Homo sapiens: one gene and its partners. The protein of the gene in region 3 purifies or fractionates together with the protein of the main gene of each other region. This does not show direct contact. Each region holds a gene or a part of one and is shown on either strand. Other genes may lie near its edges.

The links. Proteins that work in one complex are often made in the same cells at the same time.
Region 1: the proteins of TSC22D3 (region 3) and TSC22D4 purify together in Homo sapiens (affinity purification with mass spectrometry; 4 studies listed by BioGRID and IntAct, with this or other methods). This does not show direct contact.
Region 2: the proteins of TSC22D3 (region 3) and NRBP2 purify together in Homo sapiens (affinity purification with mass spectrometry; 2 studies listed by BioGRID and IntAct, with this or other methods). This does not show direct contact.

The regions. Positions count from the first base shown.
Region 1 is NC_000007.14:100,469,193-100,476,224, forward strand, and holds part of TSC22D4 (TSC22 domain family protein 4), read right to left. Parts: intron 5,249-7,032; coding exon 5,082-5,248; intron 1-5,081. Other genes in the region: TSC22D4-C7ORF61 (uncharacterized protein LOC122198330), read right to left, coding at 5,082-5,248.
Region 2 is NC_000008.11:143,833,061-143,837,983, reverse strand, and holds the end of NRBP2 (nuclear receptor-binding protein 2), read left to right. Parts: intron 1-167; exon of another isoform or gene 168-228; coding exon 229-361; intron 362-474; coding exon 475-577; intron 578-684; coding exon 685-735; intron 736-809; coding exon 810-945; intron 946-1,803; coding exon 1,804-1,857; coding exon of another isoform or gene 1,858-1,953; coding exon 1,954-2,017; coding exon of another isoform or gene 2,018-2,108; coding exon 2,109-2,164; coding exon of another isoform or gene 2,165-2,253; coding exon 2,254-2,322; coding exon of another isoform or gene 2,323-2,546; 3' UTR 2,547-4,401; downstream 4,402-4,923. UniProt on the Homo sapiens protein: May regulate apoptosis of neural progenitor cells during their differentiation.
Region 3 is NC_000023.11:107,765,766-107,772,797, forward strand, and holds part of TSC22D3 (TSC22 domain family protein 3), read right to left. Parts: intron 1-7,032. UniProt on the Homo sapiens protein: Protects T-cells from IL2 deprivation-induced apoptosis through the inhibition of FOXO3A transcriptional activity that leads to the down-regulation of the pro-apoptotic factor BCL2L11.

The sequences.
Region 1 (7,032 bases), on a different chromosome or scaffold from region 3:
TTCCAGCCTGGACAACAAGAGCAAAACTCTGTCTTAAAAAAAAAAAAAAAAAAATCGCCTATGGGCCTGGGACCTGGGTCTGGGGTCTCAGAGGAAGCGAGGGTTTGAGGAGAGGAAGGGAAGTGAGCTTGGAGAAGGGACACTGGGAAGAGGAGCAACAGGGCTTGGAAGAGGGCTGGGAGTCTGGGGTGACAGGGTCTGGCTGCAGTCTGGGAAGTGGCCACCAGAGGGCGACTCAGGCCTGGCTCAACAGCCCCCAGGGCCGGGCTCCAGGCTGGCTCCACGACGTTGGGCTCCTGGTCCCAGAACCTGGCTCTCCCTCAAGCCCCACTCTCAGGCCCCACCTGCGCAGGCCCTTGTGCTGACCTCATCCTCCAAGGCTCCCTCTCCCACCCCTCAGGCCCCAGGCTCTTGCCCTGAGGCTCCCGACCCACCCTTGCACCCCTGCACTCTGGCGCTGTGGCGGGATCCCCAGTCCTGCCCTCCAGCCCCCAGCTGGGCCCCCCTTGGAGCAGGGGCCTCAAGGCGCTGCAGCCCACATCCCTGGACTCCCTTGTAAGCCCTCCCTCCTGGCTGTCAGCTCAGACTTGCTTTCCTGCAGGGGGATCAGCACTCAATTCAAGGTGACCCCTGGATAAGGTCCTGCAGCCAGGAAGGGAGCACAAGGGAGCTGGGAATTTTCCATTTCTCATCCCAGCTCTGGGTGCAGAAGGCGCTGACAGGTGGAGCAACTAAGGAGGTGACTAGGCCTGAGCGAGCAGGATGGGGTGGGTGGGGGAAGGGCATCTGGGACTCTTGGGGTGGTGGGAGAGGAGAAGTTGAAGGGTGGAGGTGGGTCTGCCAGCAGGAGGGTCAAAGTAATTTTCGAGCTATTTCAATCAGCAACACCTGGGTGGAGATGGAGCCACCACAGAAAGCCCAATACTGCCACCACCCCATTAAACACTCACAGAGACCAAAGGGGTTGGATACACAGGGATAGGAACATGGGCCCTGCTGGGCAGAGACTCAGGGGTAAAGATGTCAAGTAAGGTGTTCATTCTCACCAGAGATAAAGGAATAATACAGCAATAAACGTTTGTTAGCCGACAGGTGACTGTCTTCTGTTTGTCTAGCGCCTGGGAGTTTTTGCTCTTGTTGCCCAGGCTGGAGTGCAATGGCGGGATTTTCCCTCATTGGAACCTCCACCTCTGGGTTCAAGTGATTCTCCTGCCTCAGCCTCCAGAGTAGCTGAGATTACAGGCATGAGCCACCATGCCCAGCTAATTTTTGTATTTTTGCCGGGGAGCCTCCGGCAAAATGGGGTTTCACCATGTTGGCCAGGCTGGTCTTGAACTCCTGACCTCATGATCCACCCACCTCAGCCTCCCATCTCAGTCCTGGGATTACAGGTGTGAGTCACTGTGCCAGGCCTCTATTGGAACATTCTAACACACACTTCAAGGGACCAGGGCTCTGGCAATGCAGGCCCTTCCCTTTAGGACCCCAAAGCGAGGGGTTGTGGGCACTGTGCTAGAATTCTTTGACAGGGTCCGGGGGAGGAAAGTAGGGGCTGCTGAGACAGGATCGACCTCCACCACAAGCCCAAAAGCAAGTTTGTATGGATTAGAAAATGCCCCCTTCTTCGAGATCCTTAATGCCATCTTCTGGAAAACTGTCGTGACTTCAAGCATTGACTGTGATTTCAAATATGAGCGGCACCCCCTGGAGTTAGTTGTGCAGTGTGTGACATGCACAGTGGGAGACTTAGCCCTGCAGGACTCTTGGTCCTGGGGCGGGGACAGCCCTAGAAGCTGGTCTTCCTCTTTGAGGGTCAAATAAAACGGCCTCAACATGAAGATGAGATAAAAAGCAGGACACCTGGGAGAAATGGGGAGCCTGGGATCTTGGGGACAGGGGCCAGCCCTGCACACTCTCCAGTGGGTTCAGGGGATCCCCCAGGGCCTAGGTCTGGGGCCAAGAAAGTGTCATCCAGCTGCCCTGTCTCTATGCTGTCCCGGATCTGTGGTGTCTTTGGGGCGGGGCTGGGGAGGTCGGGGAGGGGGAAGGGGGGCTGGCTCCCTGCCCTGCTTGGGAGAGCTGTACCTGACTGTCCTAGAGAGAAAGGATATTGTAGACCATTGCCGCCACCTCTTTGCCTGGGACACAGGCATCCCAGTAGGACAGTGGAGAAGGTGTGGCTTTGGAGTTGGACCCAGGCTCCAGCTGCAGTCCAGCCACTTAAACTAGCTGGGTGGCCCTTGGGCAAGTTTCTAAAACCCTCCTGGCCGGGTGAGGTGGCTCATGCTTGTAATCCCAGCACTTTGGGAGGTCGAGGTGGGTGGATCACCTGAGGTCAGGAGTTTGAGATCAGCCTGGCCAACATGGTGAAACCCCGTTTCTACTAAAAATACAAAAATTAGCCGGGCATGGTGGCATGCACCTGTAGTCCCAGCTACTGGGGAGGCTGAGCCAGGAGAATCGCTTAAACCTGGGAGGCAGAGGTTGCAGTGAGCCAAGATCGTGCCACTGCATTCCAGCTTGGGAAACAGAGCAAGACTCCATCTAAAAAAGAAAAAAACAAAAACAAAACAAAAAAAAACCTCCTTCTCTGAGTCTCAGATACTTCATCTGGCAAGTGGGAGAATGGAACTGCTTTTTAGGATTAGAAGGGAGAAGGCAGTACCGGACCCAAGGGAGGCACTGGATAAATAAATGTACCTTTTCTTTCCCAAGTCCCTGGGATCCATTCTGTATAATGCCTGGATCCCCCAGGCCGGTCACTGCCCCCACCCCCATTCCTTCCATCCACTTCTTCACACCTTAATTACCTCCTGCCTGCCGGGAGGGGACAAGGATTTCCAGCCCTGGGGCACGTGAGCATTCTAGATTCACCTGCACCCTCTGTTCGCCCATCCCCAGATTCAGGGACTGGTCAGGCGTCCCCAACTCCCTCCCTGTGATCCAGGCACTGAACATCTCAGCCCACCTTCCCTCTTAAGAGAGAGGTCCCAGGCCACTGGCATCCTGTCCTGCCAGCCCTGTGCACACCAGACAGGAGAGGTGGGGCCTACATGTCCCATTCCTAGGGGGCAGGGGGTGGCCCAACCCAAACCCGCTGGCCTGGCAGGGTGGGGCTTGAGGGGCTGGGCTGGGACAGATCCCCAAGAGCCTTGGAGCACAGCAGGGTGAAGTGGAGGCTGGGAACCGGACCGGTCAGATTGGGGTGTGCAGGGAGGGGGTGGGATGGAGGGAGGCAGGGAGGGAGGGTACAGGGGAAAGACGGAGGCCTCAGGAGGTTGAATCCTCTAAGACAGAGACAGCAGGAGGCTGGGCTGTGAACTCAACAGGGGTGGGGGAGGGACGGGGAGTCCTCTTGCCGGGGAACCTCCCAAGTGGGAGAGGGAGAGGGCGGGAAACGCTGAGAATAGCAGTGATGGCGGCAGGTGACTCTCCCAGCCCTGGCCGACCTCACACCTCGCACATTCCTGAGAGTGGGAATGGGGCGTGCAGAAGCCACCCAGTCCTGCCCAGCCCCGCCCAGCCCCACCCAGCACTGGCACTCTTGCCCTCCGTCCCACCAGCTCCTGGCCACCTCCTTTGCCAGGTCCCTATCCTCCCTGAGGCCGCAGGACCCTATCAGTGGTGGGCTTGAGTCCCTGATCCCAGCGAGTGGCCCCTGATCTGGGGAGGACAGGAAGGAGCGACTCCCATCTGGAATTGGTCCCTCAGGCACCCACTCACCCACTCTCGAAGCCCCACCCCCAATTTCCTTCCAAGCAGGAAGTCCCTCCCCTTGAAAACCTCCCACGGGAAGTCCCACTTCTCCCTCCAAAAGAAAAGCGGTGACTCCCCAGCCCTTCTGCCCGGTTCCTATCAGTCCCCGGGGAGAAGCAGGCAGCCTGGCTATCTCTGACTCACGATTCTGGGCCTCCCTTTTCAGCTTGCTGGCTTTCTTAGGAATGGTGACACCTGGCCCTGAAAACCCACCCAACAGAGCACTGTCCCCTAAAGGGAGAACCCCAGAAAGTCGCTCTCTGCAGTGCTGCCCCTGCCCCTTTGCCGTTCCTAGCTCTGATTCTGTTCCTAGCTGGCCCATCTTAGGGACTTGCTTTCTCGGTTCTAGAAATCTTAGGATCCTAAAGTAGACCCTGTGGGCTATCAGGATGTCACGCTCCACAGGTGCTGTTAGGGAGTCCCAGTCCTTTGTTAGGAGAGAAAGAGGGAGATGGAACTGGGAGGAAACTGATTTCCATTCTTTTTCAGTTTTTTTTGTTGTTTTTTTTTTGAGGCGGAGTCTCGCTCTGTCACCCACGCTGGAGTGCAGTGGTGCGATCTCGGCTCACTGCACCCTCTGCCTCCTGGGTTCAAGTGATTCTCCTGCCTCAGCCTCCTGAGTAGCTGGGATTACAGGCACGTACCACCACGCCTGGCTAATTTTTGTATTTTTAGTACAGACAGGGTTTCACCGTGTTGGCAAGGCTGGCCTCGAACTCCTGACCTCAGGTGATCTGCCCGCTTCAGCCTCCTAAAGTGCTGGGATTACAGGCATGAGCCACCATGCCCAGCCTACTTCCTTTATGTATATATATATATATTTTTTTTTTCTTTCTTTCTTTTTCTTTTTAGAGATGAGGTCTCGCTACATTGCCAGGGCTTGGTCTTGAACTCCTGGCCTCAAGCAATTTTCCTGCCTGGGCCTCCCAAAGCACTATGAGTACAGGCGGGAGCCACTGTGCCCCGGCCTGATTTGCTATTCTGTCTAGAGCATGCATTTGCCAGTGGGTTCCTGGGTTGGCCAGATGATCTCTAAATCTGCAAGAGCTCTGGAATCTGACAACAATGACTCCCTTCAGACTCTAAAAAAGTCTGTGACCTGACAGTTCTGAGCCAGGGAGTCCCACCCAGCCCTCTCCACAGAGAGGGAGTGGGTCCGAAATCAACTGTGTGCAGTGGCTATGCCCAGGCCAGGTTTCTCTAAGAGGTCCTCTCCAAGTTCAACCTGGGGGAAGGATGCCTACCAGGCACTTTCTTACAGCTACCCCGGGTGCTGGGCGGGGAACCTGAACCCCACGCCCCACCACCCCACGAAGCCCACCTACCTATCATCGTCGCTGTCTAGGTGACCACTGATGGCCAACATGGAGTGGGCCAGGCTGAACTTCTGAGCTGCTACTGCTCCGAAGGGGTCTGGAGATTTGTGAACCAGGCTGGCATCGTGGGTGAAGTAGAGGGCTGGGGAGCTGGGGCGAGAGTCAAGTGGGGGCACCTGGAGGCGGAGAGGTAGGAACCATCACATGAAAAGAGAAAAGAAAGGAACCAGCTGCCTTAAAACTTGCCTATTAGCCTTCCTCCCTCTCCACCTCCCCACTCTCTTTCGAGGACCCAGGAGTCCTGTCCCCGCAGTCCTTCCCTCCTCCAGCTCTGGAGAAGGCATTAGGCAGGTACTAGAAGCAAGAAGTGGGTCAACCTAAGGAATGGGAGGAGTGGTGTATAGGACATTAGAGAGAGTCTCCCAAGTGGGAGGAGGGGGTGACTGACGGAGGAACCCAGAATAGACTCCAATGCCCCAGCTCCCACTGGGCCGGGACCCCTAATCAGAGGCTACGCAGCGTGTCTGCCTTCTTTTATGTTTTATTTTTATTTTTTTGAGACAGTCTCACTCTGTCACCCAGGCTGGAGTGAAGTGGCACAATCATGGCTCACTGCAGCCTTGAATTCCTGAGCTTAAGCGATCCTCCAGCCTCAGCCACCCGAGTAGCTGGGACTACAGGCATGCACCATCATAACTGGCTAATTTTTTATTTTTGGTTAACACAGGGTCTCAAGATGTTGTCCCGGCTGGTCTCAAACTCCTGGGCTCAAGTGATCCTCCTGCCTCAGCCTCCCAAAGTGCTGGAAGAATGAGCCACCACTCCCAGCCTGTGCCTTTACTGGAGTCTCGCTCTGTCGCCCATGCTGGAGTGCAGTGACGTGATCTTGGCTCACTGTAACCTATGCCTTCCAGGTTAAACTGATTCTCCTGCCTCAGCCTCCTGAGTAGCCGGGACTACCGGCACCTGCCATCACACCTGGCTAATTTTTTTATTTTTAGTAGAGACGACAGGGTTTCACCATGTTGGCCAGGCTGGTCTTGAACTCCTGACCTCAAGTGATCTGCCCGCCTCGGCCTCCCAAAATGCTGGGATTACAGGCGTGAACCACTGCACCCAGGCTGCCTTCTTAAAATGACTCCAATGTCACCTCTTAGAGAGGCATTTCCCCATCATTCACTGGTTTACTGAACTATTTCATTTTTTTATAGCACCTAACATTATCTGAAATTAAAGTATTTATTGTGTCTCTCCCCTGCTAGAAGGTCAGTTTGCTCAGTAGCTATTTGTAGAATGAATGGATCCTCAGAAACTGCTCCTCCATCCCCTCACCCACCCCCCACTCTCGCTTCCCCTCTCAAACTTCTCGGACTCAGGTGGAATTCTGCTCCTGCGCTCTGCCCTAGGGTTGGGGGGGGAGCTGGTTGTGGAGCTGGGGGGAGGCGGAGCCTGGGCGTGGACCTGCATAGCCCAACAGGCTCTGGGGGCAGCAGCAAAAAGGGCGGGGGCGACAGGAACATGACAAGACGCCTCTGTGAGGCCCCGGGAGGCCCCAGCTTCTCAGAAAAGCCAAGAACAGAGAGTCCAGGGTGGTTAAGGGACAGAGCAGAGGAAGGGGGCCCAGGTGGTGTCCCCTGGCCCTTCTCCACCACTCCCCTCTGTTAAGAGGGAGAAGAGGCATGAGGGGACGTGGAAGGGAGACAGACTTTTGGGCAAGGAAATAGCAAAACAGATGCGTGCAAACAGAAGACCGTCAGGAGGTGGGGGAAGGCTGGGGAGTAGGGGGCACTGAGAGAGAGAGGCAGGGTCTGTGGCCCCAAGAGAAGCTCAGGCCAGGCTTAAGGACAGAGAGCAGGGAAGCTGGAGGCCAAGGGGGTTTGCTTTGGAAGAGTCTGGGGACAGGACAGGAAGAGAAACAGCATCTTCTCCCCTGGGGTGGGTGCTGAATGCAAGAGTTCAA
Region 2 (4,923 bases), on a different chromosome or scaffold from region 3:
GGGAAGCAGAGCATGGTGCTCCAATCCCAGAACCCAGCTGTCCTCAAGCTCAGAGGACCAGGTCCTGGCCTGGCTGCTGCTGCTGGGACTCCTCCCTATGGGCATCCCTGCATGTCCTGTGTGTCCCTGAGGAGGGACATGGGGAACTCAGGGGCCACCTCTCCTCGAACTGCGGGGCCAGAGCAGAGAGCCCTTGCACACCACCAGCCTCTCCTCCCTGTGCCCCAGGAGTTCATCCTTTGCTGCCTGGCCCGGGACCCTGCCCGCCGGCCCTCTGCCCACAGCCTCCTCTTCCACCGCGTGCTCTTCGAGGTGCACTCGCTGAAGCTCCTGGCAGCCCACTGCTTCATCCAGCACCAGTGTGAGCAGCAGGCCGGCCCGGGGGGTGGCTGGGGAGGTGGAGGTTGGGACGTGGAAGGGGCCCTGCAGGACCCACGGCCTGAGCACACCGCCTTGATGCTCTTGTGGCCGCAGACCTCATGCCTGAGAATGTGGTGGAGGAGAAGACCAAGGCCATGGACCTGCACGCGGTCTTGGCGGAGCTTCCCCGGCCCCGCAGGCCCCCGCTGCAGTGGCGGTGAGCAGTCAGCACCCAGAAGCCTCCCCTCCCCACACCTCCCCTCCCCGCACCTCCCCTCCCCTCGCCCCGGCCAGCCCCTCATGTGCCTCCCACTTCCATGCCAGGTACTCGGAAGTCTCCTTCATGGAGCTGGACAAATTCCTGGAGGATGTCAGGTGAGAACTGATGTAAGGTTGGGGGCCAGGCAGCTGTCAGGCCTGAACCCCCAGCCACCCTGTTGTGTCCCCAGGAATGGAATCTACCCACTGATGAACTTTGCAGCCACTCGACCCCTGGGGCTGCCCCGTGTGCTGGCCCCACCCCCGGAGGAGGTCCAAAAGGCCAAGACCCCGACGCCAGAGCCCTTTGACTCTGAGACCAGAAAGGTGAGTCCCCTCTCCTGCTGCTCAGTGCCATCCCTCAGACCTTCTAACAGCCAGATAAGAGGTGCCCCTCCTTCTCTTAGGGCCTGCATCCCCACAGCCCAGCTCTCCTCCTGGCTGCCAGAGACCAGATCCAGGCTGACCCCCTTGTGGGGGTCATGGGGGTTATAGGACAGGCTGGGCACTCTCCTTTTCCGGGAGGCTCCCTGTCCCCTCAGATCCTTCCCCTGCATCCTGCTGCCTGCCCTGAACCTACTCCAAGCATCCTTCCTCCAGAACTCACCCGGGCTCTTCCACCCTGCCAGCAATCTTCCCCCACCCCCGCACCCCTCCCACCCCCCCCACCCCTCCCATCCCCCACCTGGTGCTGATTCCCGGACATCTATGTCCTGGTGTCTCCCCAGACTTTTCCTGCAGCACCCCCTCCTGGCCAGGGGCCTCTCTCGGTGCAGTGCAGCCAGAATTCATGTCCTAACAGGCAAACTGCCTGCTCCTGGCTGCCAGCAGAGATCATGGGAGTCCTCAGCTGACACCCAGGCTCTGGGAGGCCTGATCCCGCAGGCACCGTGCACTTCGGCGCGGTCCTGTCCCGCCCAACCTCCCTTTCCCCACGCCCACAGTTCCCTCTTTGTTCAAGTTGTTCTCTCCGCGGTGAAAGCTCCTATTCAGCCTTCAGTACCCAGCCCCTAATGTCGACTCTTCTCGAAGCTTTCCTTAGCTTGCCAAGCCACTAGCAGTGAGATGGGCTCCTCTTAGAGATTCCCCCCTTTCCAGTCTTTGCTGTCCCTTCCCGGCCCCTTTGGGGCCGCGGCATGTGGTCTTGCTGCTGGGTTTGTGAGTCCCAGCCTTCCCCCGCTGCAGGTCATCCAGATGCAGTGCAACCTGGAGAGAAGCGAGGACAAGGCGCGCTGGCATGTGAGCGGGGCCTGGGAGGGCGGCGCTGCCGTGGGGAAGGCGGGAGCGTGGCGGAGCCCTGAACCCCCAGCCGACCACGCCCCGCCGCCTCCCCAGCTCACTCTGCTTCTGGTGCTGGAAGACCGGCTGCACCGGCAGCTGACCTACGACCTGCTCCCAAGTAGGCTGGGCAGGGGACTTGGGCGGCGGGCGGTGACCCCAGGCGGCGGGTGGGCAGCGGCCTCATGCCTCGCCTTACGCCATTGCCTCAGCGGACAGCGCCCAGGACCTCGCCTCGGAGCTCGTGCACTATGGCTTCCTCCACGAGGTGCGCTGGGCGGTGCGGCGCGGCCTGGCGGAGGGGGCGCACGGGGCAGGCCGCGCCCCTCCGTCCCCCATGCCTCCCTCCTTCCGCAGGACGACCGGATGAAGCTGGCCGCCTTCCTGGAGAGCACCTTCCTCAAGTACCGTGGGACCCAGGCCTGACCCGGAGCCCCAGCCCCAGGGGACCATGCCGGGGTGCTGCCTGGGCAGGCCATGTTGGGGAGACTCCAGCACCGTGGGGCTGCCCTCCTCCATGCGCCTGGGAGCACAAAGGCCCCGGTAGTGAAGGAACCCCCCGTCTCCTGAGAGTGGGGCTGACCCTGCCTTGGGCGCCGAGGGGTTGGGGGGTGGGTGTGGGGGAGCCGTTAGGCCTCCCAGGTCCTTAGGATCAGGGTTGCCCCCAGAACCCCTTCCCATATCCTCCATTCTCCGCCCTGAGTTCCTACCCAGGCTGCCTGGCCGGGGCCACTGCCTCCTCAGCATGCAGGAGGCTGCCCTGTAGGGAACCCCAGCTCTGGGGCTTGGGGGTGAGGGTCAGCCCTGGACAGACCTCTGCCCAGGGAACTGCTCCATGGGGTCTGGGAGAGCAGCCATCCCCTGCTGGCACCATAGACCCACACAAGGAGCCTGCACAGCAAGCCAGCGGTGACACACCTGCAGGTGTCAGGCATGGCACTGGGCACAACAGGGACCTGGCAGGAGAAACAGACCACAGAGAGGTCTGGAGTTGAGGCTGTTGTCAGCAAAGCCCCTGGTCCCACACAGCTCTGCCCTAGAGCCACCTCTTTGACCCTTTACCCACCCTGAGACCAGAACTTGCAGCCCCTCTGCAGATCTCCTCTGGCCACTGCAGCCCCTCCAATGGGCTTTTTCTCTCATGCATTCCCTGGCCTGGAGGCGTCAGGGACCCCACATCCTCCCTGCTCCTCAGACTCACAGCCCCTCCATGTTACCTCCCGCACCTCCTCCCTGGGGCAGCTGCTCCCTGGGCCTCTGAGGATGTCAGCTCCTGGCTCCCTGCCTCTCTCCCACTCCACTCCTGGCTCAGTCTTAGAGATTTCTATGCCCTCATGGATTCTACCCCTGCCTTCCTGGCCTCTTGATTCTTGGCTTGCCTCTCCTCCAATTCCAAACTTAGTGAAATGGCCTTAAGCATTTTAAACTGTATGTATACATTAGCGCATTCATGCCTTTCTAAACGCATTTCAAATGTCAACCAGGAAGGCACACCACTGTATTAGTTTTATACTGCCGCTGTAAAATTTACCACAAACTTAGTGACTTAACACAAATTTATTGCAATTCTGTAGGCTGGAAGTCTGACTATGGGTCTCACTGGACTAGAATCAAGGCTGGCAGGCTGCCTTCCTTCCTGGAGGTTCTAGGGGAGACTCTGTCTCCTGCTCCTTCAGGCTGCTGGCAGAATCCACATCCTTTCGGTGGCAGGGCCAAGGTCCCCACTTTCTTGCTGACTGTAAACTAAGGCCACTTCCAGCTTGTAGAGGCTGCCTACATTCCTTGGCTCTTGGCCCCCTCCTCCATCTTCAGAGCTAGCAGGTTCAGTCTGTGTCACGAACCATTTCTCTGGTTCCCTGCAGACAGGAAAGGTTGTCCCTAAGGACTCATGAGATTAGGTTGGGCCCAGCCAGATAATACATGATAATCTCCCTCCTCAAGGTTTTTAATATTAAACACATCTGCAGGACACATTTTGCCATGTAAACTAACATTCACTGGTTCCAGGGATTAAGGAATGAACCTCTTTTGTTGGGGAAGGGTGGCATTCTGCTGACCACAGCACTCCAACCAAAAGCCAAAAACCAAAGCAAGACTTACTAACGCATATCAAATAAATTAAAGGTACAAAATCGTGAATCTCAGTTATCTTAAATATTCCAATACTATTTACAAAATTATTCAAATTCTCACGCCTTCCAACTCAAAATTAGCAATCTAAAGTAATTTCCATATCCTAGATGGAAACCCTCATGCTAAACTGTCTGATTATGCATGGTTCTAAATGGTTTCAGTGGCAAATACATAACATTGTACTACTGATTAAACTGAACTTAAAAGCATCAATACCACCATTGCTGCACTTAATCATGTCTCTGTTGAATTTTTCCTTTTAAATTTTATCTTTTCAGAATTATATATGTATTGTTTTTAAAGTAGAATAGTTTTTTTTTTGAGGCCAATAATAAATAATAAATGCAGGCTCCTACTCTGATCCTCTCCAAATTCAACTCTCTTAACTGTTTCTTCAGGCATTTGAAATCCATGTTTTTCAAAACCATGAGCATGCTTTTAGTCCTGTTTATTCGTTTTTCTACATTAGATGTCCCTGGCTGGCATCCTCTGGGAGGAGGGCGGTCACCTGCCTCAGTCTCCTGGCGGCATCATTCCAGTGTTACGGGCATCATAGCTGCATGGGTGTTATTACAGCTTCATTACCACACGTCTCAGGAGAGAACACGGTGTTCTAGGATGGCATTTCTTGCACAACTTTTTGTTTTCCCTGGAGTTAATAATTGCCTTTTTTTTGGTTTGCCTAGTTTTCTATATGTGTTTGTCATTGATTCATCTTTAGACTTTCCTGAAGAAGCATGAGCATCCTGTCACAGCTTAGGACTCATCACATAACTGACTGCTCAGTTTCTTCTTTTCCTGGAGCCCCCACCATACAAGCCCCCTGCCCAGGCTACTTGTTCTTGGACTTACAGCCCAGTGGTCAGCATGGGTTAACTCTTCACCAGTGTCCTG
Region 3 (7,032 bases):
GAAAGGGGCTGGAAGCCTGGGAGGAGTCCCACAAAGGAAAATTCTGCATCTCCATCTCAGGTCCCCTAATTTTCACTGGATTCTGTGATCTGGGGGACTAAGGGTGCCAAGCTCTTCTGAGCCCTGAGATGGTAGTCTTGAGCTTGTCCAAGAACTTATGAGTCAGCTTTGGATACAAATCATGCCTGCTGGTAATTCCCACACCACCTTTTTGACTTTGTTTCCCTGTTTCTCCTCTATTTCTTGGAGTGGAGAGCAGTGTCCCCACCTACTCACAGCCTGTGAGCCATTTACTTGATGGCAACACACGTGAGACAGGCTGGGGAAAAGACAAAGGAAGAGAAGAAGAGGAGCTATTGGTTTAGTTACAAACCTTGAGCTAGTGGAATATTAGATTGATGGGGGTATTCTGTGCTGTAGATAGTCACATTTGTTATTAGAGAAATCTGTCATAGAATCTGGCAATACTGACTTCACTGGGGGCTCAGTTCCACTAAGCCGGTAATGTAATTTTCTGAATAGGCCAGGCAGAGAGCTAAGAATCACTGTGAATTCAGGTCAACCTGGGGACTTTGAGACTTCATGGAGCGTGGACTGGGAATTGGCTCTTGAAAGGCCTTCCTTTAAACAGCTCCTCCACCTTCCGGTAAACCCTTTCACCTGGTGTCAGTCAGCCTGGAGTTTCCGCCCCCCCCCCAACAACTCCCCCCACCCCAACCCACCCAGTAGTTTCTGAACCAACAAGCAGATACAAAAGGAAGAGGGACTTCTGCGACCTGTTCTGGGGCCTCTCCATGCACCACGCAGTTTCTTTAGCAGTGCATTATCAGGTGATAGTAGGTTCCTCCCTGCCACCTCCAAAATGCCTCAAGCCAAATTAAGTCCACTCCAGCTTGCCTGTCTGCTTACATTTACTGCTGAGTGTGGAGGCTGAGTGTGGGACCGGGTCAGGCTTTGCTGCCTGGCATTTGCCTCTGAGCAGACTGCTTGCCTGACACTGGGGAGAGTAGGCTTTTCCTTGGGAAGTATGATGAGCTTGACTTGGACCCCCAGCAGGCTTCCAAATGCCTGTCCCCAGGGAAGCCTACCACTGAGCAAGCAGAAGTGTGATGCCTCAGTAACCTGGCTGTTACATAAGATGTGCTAGTTATGAGTCAGGGCCCTCAGGCTGGCCTAGGCCCAGCCTAGTCTGGGAGTGAGGCTAAACGGCAGCGCTGAAGGAGGGGTGTCTTGGGAGTGGGGTAAGCCAGGAAGGAGCTGCTGGAGTCGCTTCCTTTCCTCTCACTTCTCACCCCCTTCTTCCTTAGGGATAGCTCTAGCCAATCACCAGCCTAGATAGCACGGAGCGGGAATCCTGGCCAGACCCCTAAGCTGTGAACAGCTGCTCTCCATCTCCCCTGAAGAGAAGATTAGAAGAAGTGGGTTGAATACTCAAGCCTATTCTGTGAGTAAAGTCTTCCTTCGAGGAAGGATGGGGAAGGTCCCTGTGTGCTCTGTCCATAGGCAGGGGCCCGATTTCTGGCTGGACCTATTTGAGGAAAGTGGCTCCCAGGAGAGGAAGGCCAATGGTGAGCCTGGATCATCAGTGATCCAGCCTGCTTCCAGCTCTTGTTTTCCCTCGGGCTAGTGTCTGCACAATGGGAAGCTTCCCATTCAGTCTTCTGTGCTGGCTGGGATCTTAATGCCTCTTATACAGTTTCCAGAAGGGCCACAGCTACTTTGGGGCAGGAATTTTCAGCTAGAAGGTACAAGTGAACTTGCCTTGCCTACTGATGAAATTCCCTCCTGCCTGGAATAGAATCGAGAAAAGCTTGCTTTCTGCTCTCACAGATCGCATCTTAGCCCCACTCCAACTCTAGTTAAGCTGGATTTCAGCATGGTAGACAGTGGCCTCCAAAAGACATTTTCCCTGACCTGACTCTTCATCAAACCTAGGTTGCCCTGAAACTGGGATCTAGCCTTCTGGCCTTCATGGGGCTCCTCCTAGCCCATGGGGTTCTGTGGAGGGCCTTTTCTGCCAAAGCTGTGGTGCTACAGCAATGCCCTAACCCTTGTCCCATTATTGCAGACTTTGGGACAGCACAGTATGTTCTGGGCCATTATTGTTCTCTTTATTTAAAAGGAAATTTCATCTTTCTGACCCCTGTGGTCATGGACTCCTCTCCCCTGAGTTCACTGAGCACACAAAATACCCCATCAAATGAACCCATGTTTTAGTCTCAACTTAGCACATTGGTTTCTCCAGGGTTCAAGAGGCTATTGCACGATACCAACCAATTTGTTATATAAGCCCAGCCAGCCATGGCAGATTATGGCTTTACAGTTATCTCTAGGGATGGCTTACATAAGAAGAAGAGAAAGTTCAGGTAGGAGCAGAATCACGATGAGCAAACAGCGCAACAGCCACCACCAGGTGCAGACATGGCCAAACTCATTCCTCCCAACCAACCCACCCACCAGGTGGGGGCAAGAACTCTGCAGGGTTCCATCACCCGGGATGCCTAGAGGTCTTGGCAGTCTTGGCCAGATACATCCATCTCCATTTTACCCAGACTCCCTGGCCTTCAGTACCTGATCTGGAAAGGAGCCAACCCTCTACCTGGAATGGAGAGCTTGTTGGATTATCTGCAAGTGCAAATATAAGCAGGAGTGTTAACCTTCTCTTCAGGCAGGGAAGAAAACTAAGGTCACCCTGGAAAGCATTATTTGCTGAGGTGTGGACTCAGTAAATAATAGTCCACTCCTGGCAAAAACTGAGGAGTAGATGAAATTCAAGCTCTGTGCTTCCCACCTTTCTTTAAGAGCATGAACTTTCCAAACAGATCTTTTGAACTCTCATGCTGTCCAGGCCCCGTGCTGTAACAGCCCAAGCTAGGCCTTCCATGGACTCCAGCCCCATCTCTCTACCTCTCTCCTCCAAAGTTGGCTTTGCCACATTCCAGTCCCATAGGACCCTATTCCCAGTGGGCTGTCACCATGACCAGAGGTCTGATAAACAAATCCATACAAAGTAGTTAATGGCAAGTAATGGTGTCACATGTTACTCTTTAAAAAGGTATGCTAGACCTTGGCCATTCATGAGAGATACACACTAAAACTTTTGCCAGTCTCCAACTCATGGATGCAATCTCCAAAGCATGTCATTTCCCCCATAAAAAGTCCATTCCCAGGCAGCACCATCACTTTGCCAAACTTTGTAGCTTTCTCTTCGTTGTAATCACTAGCACCAGCAGCTGGCTTAGAGAGGGAGCATTCTCCTCAAGGAATGCCCTGAGACATTTGCTCATTTTATGACAGGTTCCTACGTATGTGTTGACTACGAGCAGTAGACCACAAAATTGTGTTGAAAAGTAGGTGCTGGGCAATGCCACTCCTAGGTATATACCCCAAAGAATTAAAAGCAGGGACTTGAACAGATACTTGTACACCAGTGTTCATAGCAGCATTCTTCATAATAGCCAAAAGAGGGCAACAACCTAAGTGTCCACTGACAGATGAATGGATAAGCAAAAGAGGTATATCCATACAATGGAATTTTATTCAGCCATAAAAAGAATGAAGTACTGATATGTGCTACAACATGGATGAACTTTAAAACATGTTGAGTGAAAGAAATCAGACACAAAATATTGTATGATTCAATTTATATGAAATATCTAAATAGGCAAATCCATAGAGACAGAAAGTAGAATAGAGGTTACCAGGGGGTAGTGGGAGGGGAAAATAGGGAAACGGTGAGTTATTCTTTAATGGGTACAGAGTTTTTGTTTGGGATGATGACAAAATTTTGGGAATGATAATGGTTGCACAACATTGTTAATATACCTAATGCTACTGAATCGTACACTTAGAAATGGTTAAAATGGCAAATTTTATATCTATTTTACCACTATATATATATATGTACTATGTACAATATATGCATATAATACATCTCTCTCTTTCTCTTTCACACACACACACACACACACACACACACACTAGTAGATGTGGGGTAGGGCACCAGGCTCACTCATTGGTGAAAGGACCGGCCCCCACCTACTAGTCTCCTTGCACATGTGATTCACATCTGTGCCTCAGCAAAAACACAGTTTCTTACCAGTCTGAGTTCTCATGAAGTATCCAAACCATGAATGTTAAGTTTGCAAATGCATTTGTGCTTTTAATGGAGAAGGTCCCTTAATCCAAGAATGCCTATTCTTTGTCAGACCACTAGGCACTCAGGAAATAGTTATTTTAAATTACTTTGGGCTATGAAAGGACTTTTGAAGCTTGATACCAAAAGCAAAAATCACAAAGGCAAAGAATGACAGGCTTAACCACACAGAAACCCAAAACCGCTCTACAGCGAGTAACTCCATCCTCAAAATCAAATGGTAAATTAGTTGACAATGCGTTGCAATCTCTAATACAGGGTTTCTCACAGTGTGGTCTACATACCAGCGGTGCTCTGGGAGAGGAATTTTAGATGGTACATGGACAGAGAACTGAATCTTAAATAGTATGAACTTAGGCACTGCAGCAGGCAGCCACTCAAATCATGCCGTGTGAGTGGCCACCACCTCAGAAGCCAGGTCCAGGAATATACATTATGAAATTACTTGTTCTGAGACTCACTTAGAGAAGCACAAATAATTTTTTGCACAAATTTTTCTTGAAAACCTGATCTCTGAATCTATATCCTTCCCCTTTGTTACTATATTAATAGGGGATATTAAATGAATTAGCACACATAAAGCAATTAGAAATGTTTGCTATTTTTATCATTTTCTGAGCATTTATATATGGGAACCAGTTGGGGCCAGGTCAGAAGCTTAAAGGTAGAATCCTAGGGTTTTTAGAGCTGGAAGGGAAATCGGATTCAGAGTATTTCAGACCACACTAGCCAGGTACGCTCTGGGGTCAAAGGTAGAATAGAGCTGATTAAGAGGTTTTGGGTAAAATCTTAGAAAAAAATTTGAGGTTACAGCAACAGCAATCACAACGAATACTGTCAAAGCTCCTGTTACAGGTTGTTATACCTTACAGGTCAGAAAAATTAAGGAAGGCTCTTCAAATGTCAACTTGGGAAGCTTTTTCATATGCTACATTTAAATTGGAAACTTCTGCTGTTTGCCCAGAATATTCTATCTCCCTCCTAAGTTTTCCAGTATTAGAAGCATATTCAAATGACAAGGGGGAAGTCCCCTAACAACAGGGTGACCAACCATCCCAGTTTCCCTAGGACTGTTCCAGTTTGAGCACAGGCAGTCCTATGTCACAGGACTGGGATGGTTGGTTTCCCTACCTAATAAGGACATTTTGACCATTTGGAAAGGTTCTGAGCTCACATTTACCTCTGCTTCATAGACAATTCTTAAGTGTTACAAGAATTTCTTTAGCATTAGTTTAGTTACTGAGTGTTCTTAACAATTCTTTCTTCATAGACAATTCAGGCTCTGCTCTTCATTGTGAGGCATTGGGCAAGATACTTAATTTTTTCCAAGCCTCAATTTCCTTCTTTATAAAATGAAAATGGATGATAATAGTACCCATTTGGTCGGGCGCAGTGGCTCATGCCTGTAATCCCAGCACCTTGGGAGGCCGAGGCTGGTGGATCATTTGAGATCAGGAGATCGAGACCAGCCTGACTAATATGGTGAAACCCCATCTCTACGAAAAATACAAAAATTAGCCGAGTGTGGTGGCGTGCGCCTGTAGTCCCAGCTACTGAGGAGGCTGAGACAGGGGAATTGCTTGAACCCAGGAGGTGGAGACTGCAGTGAGCTGAGATCGTGCCACTGCACTCCAGCCTGGGCGACAGAACAAGACTCCGTCTCAAAATAAATAAATAAATAAACAAATAAATAAATAAATCCATTCCAAAGAGTTGATGTAAATATTAAATTAGATTATGCAGGTACATTGTGAATGTTCAAGAAGTGTTAGTTATTAATCTGTTATGGTTATTAGTTACATAATACAAGATTGAAAGGATGGTGTTTAAAATACACTTCTTCCCCAACCCAATTGTTTACAGGTACCATTTACATACCAACAGGCTGCATGCCCATTCTCACTGATTCGTATGTATATACACAGCACTATCAGGACTTCCATCAGGCTATGAGAGTTACTGCATGTGGTTAAAACGGAAGGAAAACAACTTTTAAACATTAATAAGGATTTTCTAGCACAGTATAAAGTTGTAAAATCTTTACAAGGGACCACGTCAATATTTAAGTAGTCATCCAACTGAAGAAACCTTTATTGAATATTGGCTGTATAACTAAAAGCCAAGGGAAAACCAAGCAAGTAAAACACAGCCCTACCCTCAAATTGCTTATACTCTTGTGTTCCAAGGAAACCAAGAACGAAGCTGGGAGCCAGGGACAGGTCAAAGCAGACAAACCAGATGTAAATCAAGAATGTGCCCTGCTCTTCTTCCTAAAAATATAGGAGCCCTCTTGGCAAAGGAATGGACTGCAGGAGGAGGGGTGGGAGACTAGCTTCTCCAGCAGGAGAGGCCTTGAAAGTTGACAAAGGAAAAAAGCACCCAACAGGAACCTGAAATGTCAAATCATTAAATTGAATAGAAGTAAAAACGATGGCTGAAGTATGATGATAGAAACCCAGGGAATTTAATGAAGTAACAAGGGATATGTTCACTTAGGAGAAGGCTGTCTACCCCAGATATTGGAGAAGCCCCATGACCAGCAATAATGGTCTTCTAGTTTGCTAATGAGCATGTCATACTGGGCAAAACCTAAACCGAATTCAGAATCCCCAGTCTCTAAGGTCCCAATTGTCAAGGAAAACAAGAGGGGATCAGTGGCTCATGCCTGTGATCCTGGCACTTTGGGAGGCTGAGGTGGGCAGGTCGCTTAAGCCCAGGAGTTTGAGACCAGCCTGCACAACATGGCAAGATCCCGTCCCTATAAAAAAAAAATACAAAAATTAGCTGGGCATGGTGGTGTGTGCCTGTAGTCCCAGCTACTTGGGAGGCTGAAGTGGGAGGATCGATGGAGCCCAGGAGTTTGAGGCTGCAGTGAG